Linked DNA regions of Homo sapiens: regions 1 and 2 are each linked to region 3. Evidence: fine-mapped expression QTL. A gene starts in region 3. Each other region holds a variant in brackets. All regions are shown on one strand. Distances are from middle to middle. Region 1 holds the start of LOC107985745 (a long non-coding RNA gene). Region 2 has its middle 10 kb from the start of SELP. Region 3 holds the start of FIRRM (FIGNL1 interacting regulator of recombination and mitosis).

Region 1 (4,242 bases), 130 kb after region 3:
TGGTCCCAGTGGCTTAGGATGCATTTCAAGGGTGAGCCTGTTGATGCCTGAGTGTTTCCCATCTGAAAGACAAAACCGCCCATGGTTTTGGTTTATTTTGTTTTTCCCCCTGCCCAAGAACCTGCAACAGTCCCTGGACCCTGCTGATCAGAATAGTTGTGCTCACCGACGCAGCAGCAGAAACAACCCCTGCCCAAGAACCCGCAACAGTCCCTGGACCCTGCTGATCGGAATAGTTGTGCTCACCGACGCAGCAGCAGAAACACTAGTTTTCCTCCCAGACCACATGGAGAACTGAGGAAGGTCGGATTTAGTGGCCCTTACCAACACATTCTCGAAAACCTGCACCCTTGCCTGTCCTCCTAGACCACAAGGAGGACCAACCGAGAAAAATCGGCTTTAGTGGCCCTTACTGACGCATTCTCAAAAACCTGTTAGAGTCCTAAGCATTCTTCTGTTAGTATTGGGACTTTACCCCTTTCCTATAAAGATGTTATGCCCCAAAAATGAAGTGGAGGGCCATACCCTGAGGGAGGGAAGTGATCTCCAGGGTTGGAAGAGTGACACCTTTTGTCCTCACTTATATGAATAGGAAGGATACAATTTCTGAGGCTCCCCATATCCTAGCTTCAGGAATAGCTTTTGTTATGCCTATTAGTCTGAGGAGGGATCCTAAAATTCCAGGTAGTCCCCACTATGATGGGGCTTTGGGCAAAAATTATGTCTTTCTGATTGGTGAGCCCGGGTGCCTAAAGAAGGTAACAGAGTCCTGGAGTTTATTCTAGAAATCATTCTTATAGGAGAAACTAGAAAAGCACCAGAGACAGGTAGCAATTTTTAGAAGTGGGACTAACCTCGGAGAAGAGAGGCAAGAGGAAGTTTGTCTGGCAGGCATTAGGACCCAGGGGGCAAGCATCAGGATAGATAGGATAGATGGGCGAGAGTCTCGCTTGGGCAACATGCCTTTGAGAGTTCTGCTCATGGCCACAGGGTCAACCAACTTGTTGTCAGGACCCCGGAGCTGCATGGCTTTCCTCTCTGTCAACCCTCGGCTCAGCCCAGAAGTACAGGAAAAGTGGAAGCTGGTTCTAGGCAAACCAACAGTCCCAACTTCGAAGAGTCGGGGGTTGTTAGAGAGCCCTTTCCCAGAAAGCCTGACACCCGTGTCTTTAGTCTGGCGGCCGTGCTAGTCGCTTTTAACTGGCCAACAGGTGCCCAGTATTTAGCCCTCGAATTTTAAGGAAAAATAGGACAGAATAGCAAGTGAAAAGCGTCCGATGGTACTCACTGCTTGGCGATAAGCAATTGTCTCGCCGCACAGTGACAGGCAATGGTCTCACTGCTTGGCGATAGCCTCACCGCTTGGCAATAGGTGATAGTCCCTTCGTGGTCACCAAAATGTGCCCGGAATTGGTGGGTTCTTGGTCTCACTGACTTCAAGAATGAAGCCATGGACCCTCGCAGTGAGTGTTACAGTTCTTAAAGGCGGCGTGTCCAGAGTTTATTCCTTCTGATGTTTGGATGTGTTCGGCCTTCTGGTGGGTTCATGGTCTCGCTGGCTCAGGAGTGAAGCTGCAGACCTTCTCGGTGAGTGTTACAGCTCTTAAGGTGGCACATCTGGAGTTGTTCTTTCCTCCCAGTGGGTTCGTGGTCTTGCTGGCTTCAAGAGTGAAGCTGCAGACCTTCACGGTGAGTGTTACAGCTCATAAAGGCAGTGTGGACCCAAAGAGTGAGCAGCAGCAAGATTTACTGCAAAGAGCGAAAGAACAAAGCTTCCACAGTGTGGAAGGGGACCCGAGCGGGTTGCCACTGCTGGCTCATGCAGCCTGCTTTTATTCTCTTATCTGG[C/T]CCCACCCACATCCTGCTGATTGGTAGAGTCAAGTGGTCTGTTTTGACAGGGTGCTGATTGGTGCATTTATAATCCCTGAGGTGGACACAAAAGTTCTCCAAGTCCCCACCAGATTAGCTAGATACAGAGTGTTGACACAAAGGTTCTTCAAGTCACCACCAGAGTAGCTAGATACAGAGTGTCGATTGGTGCATTCACAAACCCTGAGCTAGACACAAGGTGCTGATTGGTGTGTTTACAAACCTTGAGCTAGATACAGAGTGCCGATTGGTGTATTTACAATCCCTTAGCTAGACATAAAGGTTCTCCACATCCCCACCAGACTCAGGAGCCCAGCTGGCTTCACCCAGTGGATCCCACACCAGGGCTGCAGGTGGAGCTGCCTGCCAGTACCATGCTGTGCACCCACACTCCTCAGCCCTTGGGTGGTTGATGGGACTGGGCGCTGTGGAGCAGGGGGCGGTGCTCACTGGGGAGGCTCGGGCTGCACAGGAGCCCAGGGAGTTGGGGGAGGCTCAGGCATGGTGGGCTGCAGGTCCCAAGCCCTGCCCCGTGGGAAGGCAGCTAAGGCCTGGCGAGAAATTGAGCACAGCAGCTGCTGGCCCAGGTGCTAAGCCCCTCACTGCCCAGGGCTGGTGGGGCCGGCTGGCCGCTCCAAGTGTGGGGTCCACCAAGCCCACGCCTACCCGGAACTCGCGCAGGCCCACAAGCACCACGCACAGCCCCGGTTCCTGCCTATGCCTCTCCCTCCACACCTCTCCGCAAGCTGAGGGAGCCGGCTCCAGCCTTGGCCAGCCCAGAAAGGGGCTCCCACAGTGCAGCGGCAGGCTGAAGGTTTCCTCAAGTGCCGCCAAAGTGGGAGCCCAGGTAGAGGAGGCGCCAAGAGTGAGCGAGGGCTGTGAGCACTGCCAGCACGCTGTCACCTCTCAGTACCAGTACCATGCTGTTTTGGTTACTGTATCCTTGTAGTATAGTTTGAAGTCAGGCAGTGTGATGCCTCCAGCTTTGTTCTTTTTGCTTAGGATTGTCTTGGCTATGTGGGCTCTTTTTTGTTACCAGAATGAAATTTAAAGTAGTTTTTTCTAATTCTGTGAAGAAAGTCAGTGGTAGTTTGATGGGGATAGCATTGAATCTATAAATTACTTTGGGAAGTATGGCCATTTTCATGATATTTGTTCTTCCTATCCATGAGCATGGAATGTTTTCCCATTCGTTTGTGTCCACTTTTATTTCTTTGGGCAGTGGTTTGTAGTTCTCCTTGAAGAGGTCCTTCACATCTCTTGTAAGTTGTATTCCTAGGGATTTTGTTCTCTTTGTAGCAATTATGAATAGGAGTTCACTCATGATTCGGCTCCCTGTTTGTCTATTATTGGTGTATAGCAATGCTTGTAATTTTTGCACATTGATTTTGTAACCTGAGATTTTGCTGAATTTGTTTATCAGCTTAAGGAGATTTTGGGCTGAGACAATGGTTTCTAAATACACAATTATGTCATCTGCAAACAGAAACAATTTGACTTCTTCTCTTCCTATTTGAATACCCTTTATTTCATTCTCTTGCCTGACTGGCCTGGCTAGAACTTCTAATACTATGTTAAATAGAAGTGGTGAGAGAGGGTATCCTTGTCTTGTGTCGGTTTTCAAAGGGAATGCTTACAGCTTTTGCCCATTCAGTATGCTATTGGCTGTGGGTTTGTCACAAATAGCTCTTATTATTTTGAGATACATTCCATCAATACCTAGTTTATTGAGAGTTTTTAGAATGAAGGGGTGTTTAATTTTATTGAAGGCTTTTTCTGCCTCTATTGAGATAATCATGTTGTTTTTGTCATTGGTTCTGTTTATGTGCTGGATTACATTTATTGATTTGTGTATGTTGAACCAGCCTCACATCTCAGGGATGAAGTTGACTTGATTGTGGTGGGTAGCTTTTTGATATGCTGCTGGATTCGGTTTGCCAGTATTTTATTGAGGATTTTCGCATTGATGTTCATCAGGGATATTGGCCAGAAATTTTCTTTTTTTGTTGTGTCTCTGTCAGTTTTTTGTATCAGGATGATGCTGGCCTCATAAAATGAGTGAGGGAGGAGTCCCTCTTTTTCTATTCTTTGGAATAGTTTCAGAAGGAATTGTACCAGCTCCTCTGTACCTCTGGTAAAATTTGGCTGTGAATCCATCTGATCCTGGGCTTTTCTTTGTTGGTAGGATATTAATTACTGCCTCAATTTTAGAACTTGTTGTTGGTCTATTCAGGGATTCAACTTCTTCCTGGTTTACTCTTGGGAGAGTGTATGTGTCCAAGAATTTATCAATTTCTTCTAGATTTTCTAGTTTATTTGCACTAGGTGTTTATAGTATTTTCTGATGGTAGTTTGTATTTCTGTGAGATCAGT
Region 2 (4,242 bases), 150 kb after region 3:
AGGGAAGGGGTTCTGAAGGACCTCTTCTCTTAACAAAAATGAGCACTTTTAAATGAGTTTAATGAAAAATCCCATATTTTAATATAGTATTATTTGGGGTGCACTTAAATTTGAATCCCATTTATTTCACTTAACAACTGTGCCATCTTGAGGAAAACAGTTAACGCTCTAATCTTCAATTTCCTTTTAAATAAAATGGACATCAAAATACTGTCTAAGTAGACAGACCAGTTGTGCAGATGGAACCTACCTCATGATGTCGTGGTGAGTATTAAATGAGATATAGCTTTTTAAATGTGTAGCCAGGGTCTGGCCCAAGAATAATGTCAGCTCATAAATATAACAATATCTCTGCTTCCTTTCCTCAGTGACTTTTAAATAATCTATCATGGTGTTCATTTATAAATAGATCACCCATGTGACTATGTTTCTAGTATTCTAGAATGGGTGATAACCCTTCTGTGGTTATCACAGCCTTTTGGTGATCGGAGCGTGCAGACACAGTATGCTTTGGGAAGGATAGAACTTTTTTTAAGGAGAAAAACCACTTCCTAATTTGTCTGTTGATTTTAGAGCATTTTCCTTGTGTGCAAGTTTAACCATTGAGTTTGCACCAAAGAATCCAACTTATTTCACTCAGCTCAAGGGTTTCTCCTCCACACCCTTTCTGACCATCTCTCCACCCCCACTATCAGACTGTCAGATGGCCTCTTGTGGGTCTCTTGTGGGAGTCCCTTTTGTGGGACTGTGTTTATTGACTCCTTGACATTGTCTATAATTATCTGTTTATATGCTCACTTCTCCACAGGTGTTCGAGCTCCTTCAGGACAGGGACTCTGTCTTATTCATCTTTGTGTGATCAGAGCGTAGCTTAGATAATAGCACAGAGCAGGCCCTCACAAAAATATATAAAATGAAAAAATGAACCATGAAGTGGGGCTAAGTGGGTATAAATATGGAAATGTATAGTGTTTCCTGAGGATCCTATTTCTATTTAAGGATATATAGGAAGACAGTTTTTTCAAAGTTCATGTTTACTGTTTGGGACTTTTGTTAAGTTGACTTATTTCCTTGCCTTTCCTTCCCTTTCAAAAACTGGAGAGCAAAGATAAAGAAAAGAAATGTTTGAGCATAATACCACAGGCCAATTCAAATGGCATTTCAGCAAGCAGAGTCACGAGTTCATGAAACTTGTATAAGATACCTTTCTAAAGCTGTATGGGGAAAATTGGCATCTTTTTCCATGACAAGGGGAGAGAACATTAGGAAAGGGACAGACACTTCAGGCAAATGGACCAGAAGTGTTCCATCTCCCTGGGAAGTTTTGTTAAGGACATTAAGCTGTGGGGAGGTTGAATTTATCTTCATTCCTCATCATTATGTTGTATCTCTATCTATATGTATATCTATATCTCCATGTGTATAGTTATACTTATATCTACTTATATATTTGGGAGTTTTTTAGTTGTAACTAGAACAGAAATATATTTTAAAACATCAAAAAGGTTTATGATATATCACTGAATATTAAAAAGCATATTTTAAAACAATGTACAATGTGATTCAGATTCATTGGTGACAGTATTATGAGCAATTTTTCCCCTTCTTTGTGCTTTTCTGAACTTTCAATGTATTTTTTCACAATGAACATATATTAACAGTAAAGAAAAAAAGCTGTAAATTCTTTTTTTTAAATTGTAACTTGTCTTCCTATAACCTATTATTTACAAAGTTCCCTAGTCTTCTGAGTGGAGGAAACAGCTTTGCAGGTGAAATTTTCCTGAAGAAATAACTGTCTCTGATTTGATCTAATGACAGATGGCACATGTGAAAACTCAATTTTAACATAGACCTGGCATAGCCAAGGCCCTCCCTACATCTCTAGCCTCTGTTCCTGCCCCAAGGCCACCATGGCTGTCTCTAGGCTCCCAGGCTGCTTGCTCCAAACCTTGACTGGCCTAGAAAGTTCTCCCAACCTAGACCTCAGCTCCAAAGTCATTCTCTTTATATATATATATTTTATTATACTTTAAGTTCTAGGGTACATGTGCACAACGTGCAGGTTTGTTACATATGTATACATGTGCCATGTTGGTGTGCTGCACCCATTAACTCGTCATTTACATTAGGTATATGTCCTCATGCTATCCCTCCCCCCTCCCCCACCCCACAACAGGCCCTGGAGTGTGATGTTCCCCTTCCTGTGTCCAAGTGTTCTCATTGTTCAATTCCCATCTATGAGTGAGAACATGCGGTGTTTGGTTTTTTGTCCTTGCGATAGTTTGCTGAGAATGATAGTTTCCAGCTTCATCCATGTCCCTGCAAAAGACATGAACTCATCATTTTTTACGGCTGCATAGTATTCCATGGTGTATATGTGCCACATTTTCTTAATCCAGTCTATCATTGTTGGACATTTGGGTTGGTTCCAAGTCTTTGCTATTGTGAGTAGTGCTGCAATAAACATACGTGTGCATGTGTCTTTATAGCAGCATGATTTATAATCCTTTGGGTATATACCTAGTAATGGGATGGCTGGGTCAAATGGTATTTCTA[G/A]TTCTAGATCCCTGAGGAATCGCCACACTGTCTTCCACCATGGTTGAACTAGTTTACAGTCCCACCAACAGTGTAAAAGTGTTCCTATTTCTCCACATCCTCTCCAGCACCTGTTGTTTCCTGACTTTTTAATGATTGCCATTCTAACTGGTGTGAGATGGTATCTCGTTGTGGTTTTGATTTGCATTTCTCTGATGGCCAGTGATAACGAGCATTTTTTTTCATGTGTCTGTTGGCTGCATAAATGTCTTCTTTTGAGAAGTGTCTGTTCTCTTAAAGGAGTTTTCCAATTCCTATCATGCCCTTTCATTGTACCACATTCTTTTCTTCCTGAATTTATTTGTGTGATTTTTATTTAATATCTGCTCCCCCACCCCCAACAAAACCATGGGCTTCATGAGATATACTCATGACTGAATCCCTATGCTAGCACACTCTCAGGAGTCTCAAAGGGACTTAGCTATTTCTTGTGTATTTGAATGCACCAGTGTAATGAGATAAATAGAATTCAGAGAGGAACATGGGAGGGAGCACTTTCATTGTGTCCCCTTGGGGTCTAATGAATCAACCAATGAATCAACAAGTATTTGCTGAGTGTCTCTCTGCCCTCTGCTAGATACTTCAGGTGATGGAAGATTAATATAGGAAAGGATCCCTGCCCTCTGGGAATGTATGGTATAATCTGAAGACATAAAAAAAATACAAACCAGATATATAACACTACTAATTAAATTATATTGGAATTATATCCCATTTTTAGTGACAACCCAAATTTTCTACACAGATTATATCCATATGAGAAAATGGTATTGAGCCTGAGTAGCTTTTAAACAAATTCAGTTTTTTCTTCTCATTCCTATTCCTAGAGATTCTTCTTTTTCATTTTCTTTTTTCTTTATTTTTGGTGGGTATGTGTATATGTATGTATGTATGAATTTAACTGTAATTGATAAATAAAAATTATATATATTTATGGTGTACAACACAATGTTTTGATATATCTATACTTTTGTGAAATGGCTAAATTAAGCTAATTAACATATCAGTGACCTCACATTATTATTTTTTGTGTGATGAGAACATTTACAAGCTACTCTTTTTGCAATTTTCAAGTACAGATGCCCCTCAAGTTACAATGATGTTACATCCTGATAAACCCATCATCATAAGCTGAAAATGTTGAAAGTTGAAAGTGCATTTTCAACTTACGATATTTCCAATTTACAATGGGTTTATCCAAGCATAACCCCATCATAAATCTATACTGAATAAATATGGCTCTTGCACCATGATATAGTCAAAAATCCTAAGTTGAAACATTTTATGTCAGGAATCATCTGTATATAATACATTGTTATAAACTGTAGTGACCATGTGGTACAATAGATCTCTTGAACTTACTCTTCCTAACTGAGACTCTGTATCCTTTGACCAACATCTTCCGAATTCCCACACCTCACCTCCAGTCCTTAGTAACTACCTTTCTACTTTCTGCTTCTATGAGTTCAGTGTTTTTAGATTCCAAATATAAGTGAGATCACATATTGGTCTTTCTATGCCTGGTTTATTTTATTTAACATAAAGTCCTACAGGTTCATCCATGTTGTTGCAAATGACAGGATTTCCTTCTTCTTTTTTGGGTTTTTTTTTTTTTTTGAGACGGAGTTTCACTCTTGTTGCACAGGC
Region 3 (4,242 bases):
GACAGGGTGAGACTCCGTCTCAAAACAAACAAACAAACAAAAAAAAACCCATAGTCCTACCACAGTAATACAAGAATTCATTCCTCTTCCGAAATCTTATTTTTTACAGCAGCAATCAAAATGAGGTCATCATTAACTCAAATTTGAGTTCAGTAGGGTAGAATTGGCCTCATGAAAAAATTTCAGTAAAGCTCAAATAATTACCAGCTGTTCCAAAATTAGTCAGTTATGATTATGCAGACATGCAGGTAAGGCCTGGAAAATAATACGTAAAATGCAAAACATGAAAAAGATTTTGGGGGGTAATGGCATTGTAGATTTATTGCAAATTTTTCATTTGTTAAAATAGTGAAGCTAAAATACTACCATTAAGCTGAAAAAAAGTATTGTCTAATTAGACTCCCAAGTATTTTTAAAACATGAAATATTTTTAGCCCTTTAATGAATGCTTACTATGTGTCAGGCACTGTTCTAGGTGCTGAGGGTAACGCTGTGAAGAAAATCAACATCCTGCCTTTATGAACTTTGCAACATAATGTGTAGAAGTGGAAAATATACAAAGCAAACAAGAGCATTTCTTTTAATGGTAATGTGCTTTTTAGAAAACTGAACAGGCCAATGTGATACAAGTGTAAGACTGCGTTTGGGGGAACTGCCTAAGATTGAAGGCTCTGAAAAAGCCCCTCTAAGGAAGTGACATTTGGGCCAAGACATAAACATGAAATATGCAAAAGGCTGAGAGAACAAATCAGGCTGAGCAAAAAGATCTTGAGGTAGGTGAGCCTAATGTATTCATGAACAGAGTGTAGTTAATTAACTAGGTATGAGAGAAGGGCAAGGCTTAGATCACCTGGAACCTTGAAGGTAAAGTGGTTTAAAAAGGGAAATGACGAGATCTATGTTTTTCCCCTCTTAACTTTTTTGGAATAATGAATTATGAGTAGAAACAAGGAAACTATTAATACTCCAAGTGAGAGGTGATAAGGGTTTGGAATCAGAGTGGTAGCAATGAGGATGGAGATAAACGGATTGATTCAAGACATAGTTTGGAATCAGAAACAATAGAACTTACTGATCGGGTGTGTGAGACAGAGAGGATTCAAGGTTTCAGTTTGTGAAACCATTTACTCAGATGAAGAAAACTAGAGGAAGTTTGGGCTTTTTTGAATATGTCGTTTGAAGTGCAAAGCTAGGTGGGAATGTTGACTTTCAACTTAATGAAGTCTCTCTATAAGCTTGTGGGGAAGAAGAGGAATCACGTTCCGTGTCTCTGTTCTCCCAAAGCCTAACACCATGTCTCACACACATTATGCACGCAGTTTAAGTGTTTTTGAATGTTTTGAGGGTGGCTATTTGTTTTCAAGTTGAAACTCCTTGAAGACGGCAGTTCTGTACCTACACAAAAACTAAAAAAGGGGGCTTTGGCACCTTCTGAGATTTTGCTAATGCCTAGGTGAATGACTTCTATGTGATTACATAGGGCTTTAGCTGCACAATATTTGTGCAGTATTGAGATTCTCTCAAGTGAAGGTTACTTTTTTTCTTTTGAGTGTAATTGTATAAAGCTGGGCTCAAATGTTGTGAAAAAGATACATATACATATGGTTTACCATGAAAGGCTAGGATTCCAGGCACATTTACAACCACAAAGGCATGAGACCAATCAAGAATGTGCTGCACCCGGACGAAGAAGGCGCTAAGCGCCTCAAATCCAACAGTTGAAAGCCAACAACAAGCGGAAGAACTCTTTCAGAAAGACTCCAGCCTGGGTGAGAGGAGTGAGAACTTGTCAAAAAAAAAGAAAGAAAGAAGAAAAAGAGGTCTGAGAGGGGAAGGAGGAAAATCATTTTTATTTACTGAACATCTTTTAAAGATTTCACACCACAGAACTATGCCCTTTAATTCTTATAACGCTAAGAAAGCCCTTATTCATATTCACCACCCTTTTTACGGGAGACAAAAGCTCAGAGTATCTCGCTTTACCTCAAACTATTAAGAGCCAGAGCTATCGTCATACCGCAGGTCTCAGTCCTTGCCTCCCCCATTATCCACTAGCAAAAGTATTTACACTTAATTGCAAGCAACGAGTACAGAAAAACTGAAAGAAGGAATGGAAGAAAACGCCACATCCACTGCTAAAACCTTGGGTCAGAACACGTCCGCGAGGCTTTCCAGGGCCAAAGCCTTACTTAAATCTACCACGGTTGTCGCTTCCCCTCCAGTCCCTCACTTTTCATCCCACTCACTGACAAAGAAAAGAGGGGGTTCAGGCCGCGGTAATATAACCCAGCCTGGCGGTGGGTCTGAAGGGACAGAAGAGAAAGGTTCGCGACCCGCCCACACCCTTCTCTAGGTAGAAGTGACAACCAAGGAAGGATATGAGGAGTCGGGGCAGGACGGACGGCAGTTCCCGGCGGCATAGCTCCTCTGGCCAGCTACTTAATTCTTCCAGGGGAACCGCGCTAGCTGGGACCGCACCTTCCTGAGACATACTTTCGTCAAACAGGAGAGCTTCAAACCAGACCCGCCAAAGCCCAGACCGGAAACTCGCAGTCCCGCCAACCCTTGCGCGCTCTCCGCCGGCTCCAAAACCATAGAGAGGAGGGCGGCTGGTTTCTTGGTGAGCCCGGGTCCCTCAAGGCCGGAAAGAAAGTCGGGCTTCTCTAGCCCCTGGAGGACTCGACTCACTGGTGCGCGATTTAGGTCCGGAGGAGGCGTTGTGAGGTGAGCTTTTTCAGAAGCGCGATCCCAGGACACGTCGGGAAGCAAGCATCCCCAGGTCTGGATCACTGTAAACATTACATTCAAATGGGGAGGTGAGGGCCAGAAGTCCCCACTTCTGGGGTCGGATTTGTTCCGGGACCTGCAGCCGGAAGTGACTCCAAGCCTTGCAGCGTGATGGGAGAGGAAAGAGGCGCGTTCCTAGCCGCGGGACTGGGTGACCCGCCTCTCCCCCAAATTGTAAATCTTGTATAAAGGGAACAAAGATCCCACTTGCCAGAACTGTGAAAATTGAGGCAGATGGTATAGTGTCTAGCGCAGTAGATAGAAGATTCTCAATAAAGTTGCTTCTTATTTCTACAGGTCTCTCCAAACTACTGCAGTGCCCTAGTTTGCGTTTGCTCTGCCACCGAATTAGTCTTTACTAATTATTGCCAAATTACCCCCACTTCTATACACTTAGGGCTGCTGTTCTCGACTAAATGTTTGGAGTGAAGTCTTGGATGAATTTACACACACCAGGCCATACCTATGCATGTTTTTAAAGGGACGCTGACTTACCAAAATAAAATACTGCACCTCTTCTGTAAAAGACAGAAGTGAAGTTATTCTGGAAGCTTAGGGGGTGAATATGGTTGGACACAAATCAAGACAGCTGAAAGACAGCAAGTAGCTAGGCTGTCCTGTCTGAATATCTTGGACTTTATGTTTGTCCAGGTGGTAGTGGTGGTGGTTGCTGTTGTTCTTCTGTTTGTTTTTATAGTTGATTTTCTTCTCCCACTTTGGAACCCTTAAGGTGTGTATGAGTGTCCAAATCTCTTATCTCTCTCTCTTCCCCACAACTTTTTAAGAAAAAGCAGCTGTATGGTGGGACAGGGAGGGGTGGGGGTGGCTGTTTAATATTACACTTTAGTGAAATGTGCCATTTTGCTTTAATCATCATTTTCTTTCTTTTTTTTTTTTTTTTCTTTCCAGAGCTGCTTGGAAAGAGGACCAAAGACGTCTAAAAAGTCATTTGGAAATATCTCTAAATATTTGTTACCATGTATAAGCTGCTAAAGAGAAATTGGGCCCAACAAAACTAATTGAATAATTGAGGCAGATTTGTGTGTATCATCAAATTCTATCCAGAAGTTGAAGAATCTGAATTTAAAGATTGTGTGCATTTAATAAGAGGATGACCTTTCAGTTTAATTTCACTATAGAAGACCATCTGGAAAATGAATTAACACCCATTAGAGATGGAGCTTTGACCCTGGATTCCTCAAAAGAGCTGTCAGTCTCAGAAAGTCAAAAAGGAGAAGAGAGGGACAGAAAATGTTCTGCAGAACAATTTGACTTGCCTCAGGATCACTTGTGGGAACATAAGTCAATGGAAAATGCAGCTCCCTCTCAAGACACAGACAGTCCACTCAGTGCAGCCAGCAGTTCAAGGAACTTGGAGCCACATGGAAAACAGCCCTCCTTGAGAGCTGCCAAAGAGCATGCTATGCCTAAAGATTTAAAGAAGATGTTAGAAAA

The links. PIP is the estimated chance that this variant, and not a neighbour inherited with it, causes the effect. A credible set is the group of variants that fine-mapping cannot tell apart.
Region 1: its variant is the best candidate, but not a certain one, in a credible set for the expression of FIRRM in whole blood (INTERVAL, PIP 0.83).
Region 2: its variant is the best candidate, but not a certain one, in a credible set for the expression of FIRRM in whole blood (TOPMed, PIP 0.67).

The regions. Positions count from the first base shown.
Region 1 is chr1:169,659,570-169,663,811 of GRCh38, reverse strand. It overlaps LOC107985745 (a long non-coding RNA gene), which reads right to left and starts at 1,480. Exons shown (of 3, transcript XR_007066727.1): 1 at 1,289-1,480. The variant C/T (reference allele first, on the strand shown) is at 1,849.
Region 2 is chr1:169,638,435-169,642,676 of GRCh38, reverse strand. No RefSeq gene overlaps it. Among named protein-coding and RNA genes, the nearest start is that of SELP, 10 kb to the right of the region's middle. The variant G/A (reference allele first, on the strand shown) is at 2,557.
Region 3 is chr1:169,793,352-169,797,593 of GRCh38, reverse strand. FIRRM (FIGNL1 interacting regulator of recombination and mitosis) reads right to left here and starts at 2,554. Exons shown (of 25, transcript NM_001320047.2): 1 at 2,479-2,554; 2 at 1,611-1,765. METTL18 (methyltransferase 18, RPL3 N3(tau)-histidine) reads left to right here and starts at 2,687. Exons shown (of 2, transcript NM_033418.4): 1 at 2,687-2,779; 2 at 3,697-4,242. The coding sequence starts at 3,899. RefSeq lists an enhancer at 2,635-2,954.